4 linked regions of the Homo sapiens genome follow. The protein of the gene in region 1 interacts with the protein of each later gene in a biochemical or structural test. Each region holds a gene or a part of one and is shown on either strand. Other genes may lie near its edges.

Region 1 (3,500 bases):
TGAGCCCATTAACATAGTACATTTGGAAATGTCTGAATGAATTATGGATATTGGCCCAGAATTGTTCTATTACAGGTGTCCTGGATGTCAGTCTCTTTCAAGTGATTCCTTTTGAAGAACACTTCAGAAGTGTTGTTGAAGACCTGGTATTCCTAGCCACATGTGCTGGTGCTTGCAACTTTTTCCTCCCCAGAGAGATCCCTTCCTATTGACGGGCTTCCTTACCAATGCATCAGCTGAGTGACAAATGTTACCAACTACTTAAACAGATATGTTTATTTCTCATTGGTAAATGTAGCTGTTGTTTTGTTTTTGTTTGCTTACTTTTAAAGCTGGGCACATTGCTGTCCATTTTAAAATTTGCCTTGTTAATACAGTGAGGAAGGGAGGGAGAATGGACATTGGGTAGGCAGTTGCAGCTTTTGCCACAGCTAGCTGTTTCTCCTTCTCAGTGCAGTAGATTCAACAGGATTTGTTTTTCTGTGCAGGTACAGTGCAGGTGCACCTGACTGATCTGTCATCCATGTTGGTTTCAGATTTTTCTAAAGAACTACTTTGGTCACATGTTTTCAAAATATTGAGAAGCTGCTTATTGCCTGTCAAGTAGGTCCAAACTCCAGCGCCTGGAATTTAAGGCTGTTTGTGATCTGGCCCAACCCATCTTCATAGCCTTGTCACACACTGTTTCCTTAGCCTTTGTCTCTCTAACCCACTGCCTTTTTCTGAAAATGATGATTTCCTGCCTCAGTGCTGTTCATGCCCTTCTCTGGGCCTGGAAAATCATCATCTTTTGTGTTTTCTTGGCAGCTGGAACAAAATTGCCGCTTCTCTCATAAAATAACGAATTCCTGGAGCATTAATTTAGCCCCCGCTGTGTAGTAGGGAATTAGGGATTCAGAGCTTTTTCTGTTTTCCCAAAGCATTTTGAATTCTTTTTTGGTAATTACCAATTTCTGTTTTGTTTTATAGTTTTTTGTATATATGTCTAAGCTTTTCTGCCAAAGTGTAATCTCTGGAAGTAAAGGAATGTCTTAATCAAATTTGTTAAATATCCAAAGAAAAACAAGCTGCACAGTAGGCTTTATTTCTCCTTTTATTTGTTGTTAGTGAATCGAAAAGTTCAGGGCTAGCTCTGTTTAGTGTCTTTGACGTTGTTTGAATAAATTCACAAAACTTTGAGTAAAACAGGATCATTTTCTTTGGTTTAGCTTGACTCTACAGTGTATTACAGACTGCTGGCAGAGACCCAACATCATGAAACATTTAGGAGAAATTCAGATGATATTTAGGCATCCTTGTTTAGTTTCCTCCTAGGCCACTGTTTTGGAAACTCGGTTAGTCATAACCACCTTCTCTTAATTACCTACTTCCACACAAATACCTTAAGGATATTGTTTTATATAATCTTACCATCACAGCCACACCACGAAGTAGGATCTTTATATCTATTTTACAGATAAGGAAACCAAGCTCAAGAGGTTAAGAACTCACCAAGTCATACAATTAGTGACAGCTGGGATTCATACCGAAGTGCCCTGTAGAGCCCTGTGTCTCCTCACTTCATGGCACTGGTCAAGAAGAGGTCACAGCTCGCTAATTGTTTTTCCAAGTCTCAAGGCTTTTTCTTGGCATGTCCAGACAACCTATCCAGTTTTACTCCCTCCTACCCTTACGCTTATATCATCTTATTGCCAACCATACCACAGTCCTTCTTTCTGAACTTGATTTTTGTTACTCTGCTAGGAGTAGCCTTTCCTTTTTTAAGGGGGTAGGAGTTCCCAAGTCTTACAACTCAAGTCCCAGCTTAAACTCCTCTGTCTTGAAGATGACTTCCTTGGCTGCTTCAACACCTATTAGGCTTTCTTTTCTTGACCTCCCGGAGAATGCATTGGGTAAGATTCAGTTCTCTACCCAAATTTAATGTGTCTGTATTTGTGTGCAACACACAAACTTCATTATTTTTATTTGAACTCTTGGCTGTGCTTGCATATGTGAAAGTGATATTTACAAATTTTGGAACACATCTTTCAATACAATTTGTGTCCATTATATACACTGTACTATGCTATAGGGCATGGAGTATACAGCTGTAATAGAGTGAAGGACACATTGTCTAATATTGTAGCTTTGTGTGTACAAGTCCCATAAGAGACTGTTTAAAAAAGTCTTTTAGAAATTTCACTGGGCATGGTGGCTCACACCTGTAATCTCAGCACTTTGGGAGGCTGAGGTGAGAGGATCGCTTGAGCCCAGGAGTTCAAGATGAGCCTGGGCAACATAGTGGTACCTCATCTCTACAAAAAATTTTAAAATTAGCTGGGCATGGTGGCACGTGCCCGTAGTCCTGTGGCAGGCTAGGTCTCACTAATGCAGGCCTCCATAACAACTGTTTCAATACTGACTGACTGGTTAAGTGAAATAGTAAAAGCTAAACAAGTCAGTGCCCTTATCAAAGGCTGGAGTGTAACAGAAACCTACCAAGAGTTTTGCCTAGGCCTTTCCTGGGCCTTAAAGCATGAGAAAATAACAAAAGAATTCTTAACAGGACCCTTTTAGGATTAAACAAATTTTATTGTGGGTCTGAAAAAACTCCCCAAACCTCTGTGATTTAGTAGGAGACAAGGGTAATCACCTCAGCACCTGGACCCATTTAGATGAAGTAAATCTACTGAGGATCCAGAAGAAGGTCTCCAGCACTCAGACCTTAGTTATAGATTAAAAGAAGTTAATCACTTACGTCTTCAGGTGAATGCACACTTACCTGTAGACATATAGCTTAGAAGGTATATAAGCTCTGGAAAACTGCAATTTTGAGTTGGTCTGGTGATAATTTCCAGGCCTTCTCCCTGTAACTGGTTGCAGAAATAAAAACTCTCTTCCTCCCCTGTTCATCTGCATCTCGTTATTGGGCCACGAGAAATAGCAGCCCAACCCTCAGTTTGGTCCAGGAAGAGTCCCAGCTACTCAGGAGGCTGAGGTGGGAGGATCACTTGAGCCTGGGAGGTTGAGTCTTGCCACTGCACTCCAGCCTGGGCAACACAGCAAGACTCTTTCTTTCTCTGTCTTTCTCTCCCTCTCTCTTTTCTCTCTTCTCTCTTTCCCTGTCTCTCTCAAAAAAAGTAAAAAGAAATTTAAAGGAGGAAGTGGTAATTTGTTAGTAGTTATTATAGATTAGTTGTTACTTATTGAAGACATTAGGACCAGTCAAATATTATTGGATTCTTAGCAGGTAGAGGTGTATTGGTCATCGTAGGGTTCAACCAGAGGCCTGGCTTATTTGGAATGTTGTAGGGAAAATTCAAGAATCAGGGAGAACAGTGCTCTCAAAACATGGGCTGCAGACTTCTAATGGCATGGGGTTCATGCTAAAAATGCTGATTGCTCAGCCTCATCCCATACTTCTTGAGGGATGTATGTCATGAAATCTATGCTTTTTAATTTTTTATTATGGAGGATTTCAAACATATACAAAAATACAGAGAATAATATGTCTCTGTGTG
Region 2 (3,500 bases), on another chromosome or scaffold:
GCAGTTTGGTTGAATGCTTGCTTGCTGGCACTGGGAGTGTGTTGCTGGATTACTAGGGCAGGCATCAAATTTAGGTTCAAGGGGGCCAGGAACAGAGTAGGTGGAGGTGCTTATTGGTCGGGAAGCCAGGGAACATGGAAGCTCACTTCTTGGTCCCCCATGCTCTTTTACCCTCAGCTTGTGTCTCCCCGGCCAATGAGGAAACTGAAGGCCCCATATCATTGGTATATGCCTCTGCAAAGCCATGAAAAACTCATAAGAAACCTACAGAGATGGATGTCCAGATAAATTCCAGTGCACTCATCCCTCGGTATCCATGGCGGATTAGTTCCAGGACCTCTGGGGACACCAGAATCCACAAATGCTGAAGTCCCTTATATAAAATGGCATAGTATTTGCATATAACTGATGTAATCTTCCCATATATCTTAAATCATCTCTAGATTACTTACAATACTTAGTACAATGTAAATGCTAACTAAATAGTAGCATTATAATGTTTAGGGAATAATAACCAGAAAAAAAAGTCTGTATATGTTCAGTACAGATGCAGTTTTTTCCTGAATATTTTTGGTACAAGGTTGGTTGAATCCATGGATGCAGAACCCACAGATCCAGAGGGCTGACTGTAGTTGTATACAGGTGTTATATCAGGAGAGGCAACATTGGCTCTTCCACCTTGTTCTCTTCCCTCCTAGCAGAGTTGTAATCCAGACCACTTCTTTCCAGATGATTAGGGGTGAGGGGCTGAGCTGCTGGATATCTGATATCTGGGAGTGGCATGGTCAAGGTCACATTGCCTGACTCAGCAGGGAAATGTGTTAGGAACTTTCATCCTTCATTCTAGCCAACTGCCATGAGTACCTAACATTTTGTATAAATTAAGTGAATATTATTTTAGTAGAAATTTATTTCTGATTATGAGACAAAGGAAGCCACTCTTCTGACAAGAGGGGAGTGGTTTCCATTGGGGAAGAGTACCCCAGAGAGCTCAGGGACTTTGTTTGTTTGTGTCTTTTTGTTTGTTTGATTTTGTTTTGTTTTTTTGAGACGGAGTCTCACTCTGTTGCCCAGGCTAGAGTGTAGTGGCGTGATCTCGGCTCACTGCAACCTCCGCCCTCTGGGTTCAAGTGATTCTCCTGCCTCAGCCTCCCAAGTAGCTGGGATTACAGGCGCCTGCCACCGTGCCTGGCTTATTTTTTGTATTTTTAGTAGAGACGGGGTTTCACCATCTTGGCCAGGCTGGTCTTGAACTCCTGACCTCGTGAGTCACCCTCCTCGGCCTCCCGAAGTGCTGGGATTACAGGCATGAATCACTGTGCCTGGCCTTTTGCATTTTTGGAGACGAAGTCTTGCTCTGTTGCCCAGGCTAGAGTGCAGTGGGGCGATCTTGGCTCACTGCAACCTCTGCCTCCCCAGTTCAAGTGATTCTCTGTCTCAGCCTCCAAATAGCTGGAATTATAGGCATGCATCACCATACCTGGCTAATTTTTTTATTTTTAGTAGAGGTGGGGTTTCGCCATGTTGGCTAGGCTGGTCTTGAACTCCTGACCTCAAGTGATCCGCCCGTCTCGGCCTCCCAAAGTGCTGGGATTATAAGCGTCAGCCTCTCGCTGTGCCTGGCCGGGACTTTGACCTGGAAGAAGGCTGAGTGACCAGCATTGCCTCCCTTCACATTTTATCCACCTGTGTTTAGACAGGTCAAGTGGCTTTCTCCAGGCAGCTGATTAAAAGGTGGCAAGACATGGACCCAGAACCCAGGGCCAGGCCTATTTCATTATCTGTGCTATTTAGGATTTGGCAGTTTTCCATCTTTGAAAGCCAGATGAAGTTGATATTTAAGAGAGGTGAAGTAGGCAGCCATTTGGCGCCAATTTATTTCAGCATCTGCATGGAGAAAATGGTTAGGGATAAATAGTAGACCCTTCATGGAAGGTTTTCATTTGAAGCCCAGCCAAAGGCAACAGGGTCTGCCCTTTGAGCTCAGAACTTTCGCAGGCCTTAACGACACACTGGGACCTTCTTTCCTTTTCCAAATGGCTTCAGCCTTGCAGTTTGGAATGATGTCAACATGTGGCGTAGTTTTATTCAAGTCCCAAGTTAATGGTTTACCTTTTTAGAAAACTCCAAAAACACTTTCATTGTTATTTAACTTTTGAGTTATGTAATGTCTAAGAGTCTTGTCTCTGACCCGTGCACCTACCTGCCACTGACCAACAGTTTCTCATTTCCTTACGCAACAACTAGTCTGGCTAGCTTAGAGTTGGTGTGTGATTGTTTGAGACTTTATGTGGAAGATAATATTTAATTGTTTTGTTCTGGTTTGTTGGGGTAAATTATACAAATGGAATGCATCCTTTCTCGGCCTTGAAAGAGGTTATATGACAGTACAATTATAATAAATTCAGTGTATGACTTTGGGTACATTCTATTATAAACGAATTTTTTTAAAGGTGCAGTTAGAAGAAGGTGGAAGAAAAAAGAAGTTGACACTCCGATTTTCCACATCATCTAACTAAAATGGATTTAAACTAACTTTCTCTAACTATTAAATCTTTCTTAGGTAAGTACAGTTGTATCCCAGCTCTAGAGTTAATGTGCTGGGTGGGTTTTTACAAATAAAAAATCTAAAACCTAAAATAGTTGTGTTTTATCTTCTGTCCCAATCCAAAACAAAACAAAACAATCATGTGATAGTAACTAATCTCTGGAGATACCTGACAAGCGTGGTCCAATAGTGACGCGGGTTTGTCACTTTGGTCTTTAGGTGACATTGACAGCTGGTGTGGCATATGGATCACACTGTGGTCATTGAAGTATAATGTTGCTTACTTCTGAGAAGTGATCATGGGGCCTTTTTTTTGAGACGGAATTTCGCTCTTGTTGCCCTGGCTGGAATGCAATGGCGCTATCTCGGCTCACTGCAACCTCCGCCTCCTGGGTTCAAGCGATTCTCCTGCCTCAGCCTCCCAAGTAGCTGGGATTACAGGCATGCACCACCACGCCTGGCTAATTTTGTATTTTTAGAGGATTTCTCCATGTTAGTCTGGCTGGTCTTGAACTCCTGACCTCAGGTGATCTGCTCGCCTCAGCCTCCCAAAGTGTTGGGATTACAGGCATGAGCCACCGCATCTGGTGTTCACGGGGCTTTTACCTTATGTACTACCTTTCGATGTTTCAGTTGTGAGCTTGAAAAATTTTATTCAGTAACCTAACATATAATTAGAGATGCCAGAGTGGTGGGGAGGGGAGGGAAGGAGGTTGGGAGAATGTTGTTGATTTTTTTTTTCCCTTTATAAACACATACAACTTTGGACGAAGAACATAATGTTTGAGCAAATGAATGCTTGTAAACTGCCGATCTCTGAAGTGTGAAAAGTTTATATTGATGGCACTTATATTCATAAGCCTGATGGGTTTTGGCTGGGAAATTTGGCTCGAGGTACGGACTTCTTTTGGGACACATTTTATTTTTCTGTCAAAACTGCCTGATTATTCTT
Region 3 (3,500 bases), on another chromosome or scaffold:
GTAATTCAATCTTTTGATCTTTTGTCTCAGTTCTCCCATGAGAGAATAATGTTCAATGGTAAAGGTGATGTTTACTCATGTTTAGATAACAGCGAGAATCTTGGAGGCCCATCAGAATGTAGCTCAGATGAGTCTAATTGAAGCCAAGATGAGATTTATTCAAGCTTGGCAGTCACTACCTGAATTTGGCATCACTCACTTCATTGCAAGGTCAGTGGTTCTAAGCATCTATGTGTAAACCTTAATCTGCATTTTTGCTTAATCTACCTCATGTAATTAGATATTAAACATCTAAAGCATACCTATGTAGACCCATTAACTCATATTACAATAGAATTCAAAGACTGTTAGAATGTATTTTGTAAGCTTTTAATTTCTACATTAAAAATTCAAGATAATTGTGTTTGTTTTACTACTAAGAGAATAGCACTCTTGGCCAGGCACGGTGGCTCACGCCTGTAATCGCAGCACTGTGGGAGGCCGAGGTGGGTGGATCACGAGGTCAGGAGATAGAGACCATCCTGGCTAACACGGTGAAACCCTGTCTCTACTAAAAATACAAAAAATTAGTGGGGCATGGTGGTGGGCGCCTGTAGTCCCAGCTACTCGGGAGGCTGAGGCAGGAGAATGGCGTGAACCCAGGAGGCGGAGCTTGCAGTGAGCTGAGATCGCGCCACTGCACTCCAGCCTGGGCAACAGAGCAAGACTCCGTCTCAAAAAAAAAAAAAAAGAATAGTACTCTTTTAGGGTTAGAGAGAACACTTATCTTGAAGAAAAGCAGTCCAACATGTTCCCCCACAACATGTTTTTAACCGTTCTTTTCTTAAATGTTATAGGTTCCAAGGGGGCAAAAAAGAAGAACTTATTGGAATTGCATACAACAGACTGATTCGGATGGATGCCAGCACTGGAGATGCAATTAAAACATGGCGTTTCAGCAACATGAAACAGTGGAATGTCAACTGGGAAATCAAAATGGTAAACTCATAACAATGTTACTTGAATATAGTCCTTCTCTGATACAAATTAGTACATTAAGAATAAAAAGGCCTATAAATTCTGATGATTATTTGTACCACCACCTCTTAAAGTACAGACAGACCATGGTTGACTATTCATTTCTCACTTAAATTTGCCTATTTCATAATTAGCCCAGTTACTAAAATTCTAAGTGCATAATTTGCTTAGAATGTTGCCTTTTTTGTCTTTCTGTAATGGATAAAGCCGATCTACTCTGAAATAGCAGCTACTGTTTGTTGAATGCCTACCCTGTGCCAGACATGATACTTAGAGGCTTACATTAGTACCCTGTCTCTAAACCTCATCACAGCCTTTTAAGGCAGTTGGACAAATGAAGACACTGCAATAGAGAGACCTGAGGGCCATCATTGTCTATGACCACGCACAAAGTAACTACAGAATCATTTCAAACTCAGATGCTTTAGGCTTAAAAACCTGGCACATTTACCACTGTACATCATGTTGCCCCCAGTCTTGGAGTATACGAGTATCATTTAAAATGAACCATCTTTTACTAATAAGTCATTTGGTTTAGCATCATATTGGATTTATTGTATCAATTCCTATTACTTCAAAGAATCTTATATTTCTGAAATACTCAAACGTGATACCTAAAATTTAAGTATCTGAAGCGAACGTTAAAACACAGGAAGTAGGCTTTCCTGCACGACTTGAAGAGAGGCATTCTCATTAATTGAATCAATCACCAGAGACCATTTGAGAACTGAACGACCTAAAACCCTTGCATTCCTAGTCTTCCTTTTCAGAACATGAAAACTTAAAGTGTAGGGGAAGGGCAATAAACTTAGCTTCTTCTTTGGGACTTAAAGGCATTATTCGTTTAGGTTTTAGACAGACTGATCATTTGAGGATCAACAAGTGTTTTGTGATATGACAGACTTTAAGTAGCACAGTAGTTTTGTGTGGACCCAGCCACCTAGCATTTGGGACAGCACTGATGGCTCTTGTCTTTGTTCCAGGTCACCGTAGAGTTTGCAGATGAAGTACGATTGTCCTTCATTTGTACTGAAGTAGATTGCAAAGTGGTTCATGAATTCATTGGTGGCTACATATTTCTCTCAACACGTGCAAAAGACCAAAACGAGAGTTTAGATGAAGAGATGTTCTACAAACTTACCAGTGGTTGGGTGTGAATAGGAATACTGTTTAATGAAACTCCACGGCCATAACAATATTTAACTTTAAAAGCTGTTTGTTATATGCTGCTTAATAAAGTAAGCTTGAAATTTATCATTTTATCATGAAAACTTCTTTGCCTTACCAGACCAGTTAATATGTGCACTAAACAAGCACGACTATTAATCTATCATGTTATGATATAATAAACTTGAATTTGTCACACATTCCTTAGGGCCATGAATTGAAAACTGAAATAGTGGGCAAATCAGGAACAAACCATCACTGATTTACTGATTTAAGCTAGCCAAACTGTAAGAAACAAGCCATCTATTTTAAAGCTATCCAGGGCTTAACCTATATGAACTCTATTTATCATGTCTAATGCATGTGATTTAATGTATGTTTAATTTGATATCATGTTTTAAAATATCCTACTTCTGGTAGCCATTTAATTCCTCCCCCTACCCCCAAATAAATCAGGCATGCAGGAGGCCTGATATTTAGTAATGTCATTGTGTTTGACCTTGAAGGAAAATGCTATTAGTCCGTCGTGCTTGATTTGTTTTTGTCCTTGAATAAGCATGTTATGTATATTGTCTCGTGTTTTTATTTTTACACCATATTGTATTACACTTTTAGTATTCACCAGCATAATCACTGTCTGCCTAAAATATGCAACTCTTTGCATTACAATATGAAGTAAAGTTCTATGAAGTATGCATTTTGTGTAACTAATGTAAAAACACAAATTTTATAAAATTGTACAGTTTTTTAAAAACTACTCACAACTAGCAGATGGCTTAAATGTAGCAATCTCTGCGTTAATTAAATGCCTTTAAGAGATATAATTAACGTGCAGTTTTAATATCTACTAAATTAAGAATGACTTCATTATGATCATGATTTGCCACAATGTCCTTAACTCTAATGCCTGGACTGGCCATGTTCTAGTCTGTTGCGCTGTTACAATCTGTATTGGTGCTAGTCAGAAAATTCCTAGCTCACATAGCCCAAAAGGGTGCGAGGGAGAGGTGGATTACCAGTATTGTTCAATAATCCATGGTTCAAAGACTGTATAAATGCATTTTATTTTAAATAAAAGCAAAACTTTTATTTAATATTTATTTTTGTACTTGTTTTTAATGTTTACATAGTATTAATTTAGTAGAAATGAACTTCTGCCTTTTGGAATTGCTTTGCCTGCATGTTATTTTGTGAGAACAACTGGTTAGTATTCCACAGCGTTGCCAGATAGAGATACTTTATCTCAAAGATAGTCTTTCACCTCAATTGAAAAGCCCTCATTTTCTTAATACTTAAAAATGAATGTGTAATATCTA
Region 4 (3,500 bases), on another chromosome or scaffold:
GGGAGGCGGAGCTTGCAGTGAGCCGAGATCACGCCACTGCACTCCAGCCTGGGTGACAGAGCGAGACTCCATCTCAAAAAAAAAAAAAAAAAAAAAAGGCGGGTGCCACCATGCCCAGCTAATTTTTGTACTCTACAAGGATTTTGATTCACGTTTGAAGTTCTCTTCTGCGCCCTACCTGGCCTTTATTTCCTCCAAGCTGTTTTATTCTTGTTGTCTTGGTCTCTATGGTTCACTCTTGAAGCTTTCCTTAAATGTGGGTAGTCCATGCCTGTCCATTCATATTTAAAAGTGAAGCTCTAAGAAACCAATTGGAGACCCTGAGTGTGTGAGTAGGGCTTGGCATCTTGGTGGCCCCCTGGAGGCGATGGGGCCGGGCTGCCACTCTTTGTCGGGCATTTCTCTGGTGGCTCAGCCTCTCAGTGGCAACCCCACTGATCTTTCAACTGGAGATAGAAGGCTTCCTGCCAATGTCTTGGGTGACAAGTGGGAAAGGGTGTGGGTGTGTCACTCATCTGAATGCCAGCTTTCTTTAAATTTGTGTTTTTGCCGGGCACGGTGGCTCACGCCTGTAATCCCAGCACTTTGGGAGGCCAAGGCAGGTGGATCACCTGAGGTCAGGAATTTGAGACCAGCCTGATCAACATGGAGAAAGCCTGTATCTACTAAAAATACAAAAGTAGCTGGGCGTGGTGGTGCATGCCTGTAATCCCAGCTACTCAGGAGGCTGAGGCAGGAGAATCGCTTGAACCCGGGAGGCGGAGGTTGCGGTGAGCCAAGATCGTGCCATTGTACTCCAGCCTGGGCAACAAGAGCAAAACTCCATCTTAAAAAAAAAAAATTGTCTGTTTTCACCCTAGTGCAACCCCCACCCCGTCCAGCTGTGTCTGGGGTACCAAATGCAGGGGTGCATCTGGCTCAGCATCTCCAGAGAGTGAGTCCCAGCTTCTGCCAGGTGTCTCCTTGCCATCACTTGGCTGCATGGAGCTGGGGAGGGACCTGCTTTTTTTCTTGGACTTTATCCAGAGTCCTCTCTTCAGCTCACCCTCGCATCTCATCCAGAGGATCCCCATCAGAGCCTGCCAGGGGTCCGCCATGCAAACTGGATGCCTCTGTTGAGATCTCTGTTCTTTTTGCTGATTGCTTTCCGCCTATTTTCAAGTCTCATTGGTGGATTTACCAGACAGGAGAGGGACAAGGCGTGAGGCCCTAGCGCTCTCTGCATAACCCAGTTCCCATCTACAGTTTGCTCTCCATCTTCCAAATTATTTCCTTTTTCCTTTTTTTTTTTTTTTTTTTTTGTGACGGAGTCTCGCTCTGTCGCCCAGGCTGGAGTGCAGTGGCACGATCTCGGCTCACTGCAAGCTCCGCCTCCCGGGTTCACGCCGTTCTCCTGCCTCAGCGTCCTGAGTAGCTGGGATTACAGGCGCCCGCCACCACGCCTGGCTAATTTTTTTGTATTATTAGTAGAGACAGGGTTTCACTGTGTTAGCCAGGATGGTCTTGATCTCCTGACCTCGTGATCCACCGACCTCGGCCTCCCAAAGTGCTGGGATTACAGGCGTGAGCCACTGCGCCTGGCCTTCTTTTTCTTTCTTTTGGAGACAAGGTCTCACTCTATCCCCCAAGCTGGAGTGCAATGGTGCAATTACAGCTCACTGCACCCTCAACCTCATGGGTTCAGGTGATTCTCCCACCTCAGCATCCTGAGTACCTGGGACTACAGGCACGCACCACCTCATGTGGCTAATTTTTTGTATTTTTAGTAGAGATAGGGTTTCACCATGTTGCCCAAGCTGGTCTGAAACTCCTGGGCTCAAGCTATCTGCCTGCCTTGGCCTCCCAAAGTGCTGGGATTACAGGCGCAAGCCACCGCCCCGGCCTGTCCTTTGTCCTTTTGGGTTTATCTTCCTAAACCTTTGCTATCAATTTTGGGTGAGTTTCAGCGGGATTGTTGGTCTTCTGTGGGTAACTGGGATCCCCTCTTGGAGTCTCTGCCTTCCCAGTTCCTTTTCTCTGGAATCCTCTTCCTTCACGCTTCCCTTGAGTGGCCCACTGTCATCCTTCCTATCTCTACTCAGCTTGTCACCTCCTCAGGGAAGCCTTCCCTGACTGCTTCCCCATGTTCCATTCTGTCATCTCCATTGAACTTGGGGGGGCCTTAGACTGAGGGCTCATGTGAGCTTCCCTGTGGAAACTGTTTCCTTGATAGTGTTTATTGCAGCCTTGGATTATTTGACTTATTGATTGGTTTACTCGGTCTCTCCTGCACCCAGGGCAGCATGCCAGCACACAGTAAACATCAGCACAACCAAGCCAAGGTTTAGACGTGCAGGCCTGGGCAGCAGGGGGCTAGCAGGCTATTAAGGATGGGGTTGAGGTCTGTGGCCCATGTCTGGCCACTGAATGAATCTGCCTCAGCAAGGAGGGCAGGGCAGAGGGCCAAGGCTGGCAGGGGCTCAGTGCAGGGCGTCCAGGGCAGCTGGCATCTGACCAGCCCAGCCTCCAGCCTCCTCTCCCCCCGCTCCAGACAGACCCCGTGCGGCTGACACAGCTGTATGAGCAGGCCCGGTGGGACCTGCTGCTGGAGGAGATTGACTGCACCGAGGAGGAGATGATGGTGTTTGCCGCCCTGCAGGTACCAGGCGGGCCTGGGGGCACCAGGGCAGGTGGGAGGTGAGCCAGTCCCAGGGCAGGAAGGGCCTTCCTGAGTGGGGGCTACCTCCAGGGAAGCCCGGCCTGGGGGTACTGCTAGGGGACCAGGCTGCTGGACTCAGCCCTCCCTGGCTTCATGACCACCTAGTACCACATCAACAAGCTGTCCCAGAGCGGGGAGGTGGGGGAGCCGGCTGGCACAGACCCAGGGCTGGACGACCTGGATGTGGCCCTGAGCAACCTGGAGGTGAAGCTGGAGGGGTCGGCGCCCACAGATGTGCTGGTGAGGAGGGGCTCAGGGCAGGGGCTGGGCAGGGAGAACTGTGAGGTACCGGGTGCCCCTCTGACTCTGGTCCTCCCATAGGACAGCCTCACCACCATCCCAGAGCTCAAGGACCATCTCCGAATCTTTCGGTGAGTTGGGGGCCAGAGTAGGCAGCCCTGCTGGAGGGGTTGGTCTGCATATGGAGGGAGGGGGTGAGGCGGCCTTTCACAAACCCCAGCATCCCACGAAGGCCCCGGAAGCTGACCCTGAAGGGCTACCGCCAACACTGGGTGGTGTTCAAGGAGACCACACTGTCCTACTACAAGAGCCAGGACGAGGCCCCTGGGGACCCCATTCAGCAGCTCAACCTCAAGGGTAAGTGCACAGGGCCAGGGGCTGGGTGGGGGGATCCCCACTTGTGGGCTAGGCAGGTGAATGCTCTCACCGGCCCTGTTTCCTCCTGGAGACCGGGGAAGATGCCCTCTGTCCTGAGGTGACGGTGTGGGCTAGGATGCACTCCAGGACCTCAGGCGGCTCTTCCCCTCCCGACCTCCTAGACCACCCCTTCTCTCCCTCCAGG

What was found.
Region 2: the proteins of LIMS1 (region 1) and DAPK1 form a complex in vitro, tested with the Homo sapiens proteins (one large-scale study listed by BioGRID and IntAct).
Region 3: the proteins of LIMS1 (region 1) and FERMT2 form a complex in vitro, tested with the Homo sapiens proteins (one study listed by BioGRID).
Region 4: the proteins of LIMS1 (region 1) and FERMT3 form a complex in vitro, tested with the Homo sapiens proteins (one study listed by BioGRID).

The regions. Positions count from the first base shown.
Region 1 is NC_000002.12:108,540,970-108,544,469, forward strand, and holds part of LIMS1 (LIM and senescent cell antigen-like-containing domain protein 1), read left to right. Parts: intron 1-3,500. UniProt on the Homo sapiens protein: Within the IPP (ILK-PINCH-PARVIN) complex, binds to F-actin, promoting F-actin bundling, a process required to generate force for actin cytoskeleton reorganization and subsequent dynamic cell adhesion events such as cell spreading and migration.
Region 2 is NC_000009.12:87,504,367-87,507,866, forward strand, and holds part of DAPK1 (death-associated protein kinase 1), read left to right. Parts: intron 1-3,500. UniProt on the Homo sapiens protein: Calcium/calmodulin-dependent serine/threonine kinase involved in multiple cellular signaling pathways that trigger cell survival, apoptosis, and autophagy.
Region 3 is NC_000014.9:52,857,051-52,860,550, reverse strand, and holds the end of FERMT2 (fermitin family homolog 2), read left to right. Parts: intron 1-85; coding exon 86-210; intron 211-836; coding exon 837-978; coding exon of another isoform or gene 979-990; exon of another isoform or gene 991-1,245; intron 1,246-2,000; coding exon 2,001-2,174; 3' UTR 2,175-3,278; downstream 3,279-3,500. UniProt on the Homo sapiens protein: Scaffolding protein that enhances integrin activation mediated by TLN1 and/or TLN2, but activates integrins only weakly by itself. Binds to membranes enriched in phosphoinositides.
Region 4 is NC_000011.10:64,216,721-64,220,220, forward strand, and holds part of FERMT3 (fermitin family homolog 3 short isoform), read left to right. Parts: intron 1-2,530; coding exon 2,531-2,638; intron 2,639-2,803; coding exon 2,804-2,938; intron 2,939-3,019; coding exon 3,020-3,069; intron 3,070-3,158; coding exon of another isoform or gene 3,159-3,170; coding exon 3,171-3,295; intron 3,296-3,499; coding exon 3,500-3,500. UniProt on the Homo sapiens protein: Plays a central role in cell adhesion in hematopoietic cells. Acts by activating the integrin beta-1-3 (ITGB1, ITGB2 and ITGB3). Required for integrin-mediated platelet adhesion and leukocyte adhesion to endothelial cells.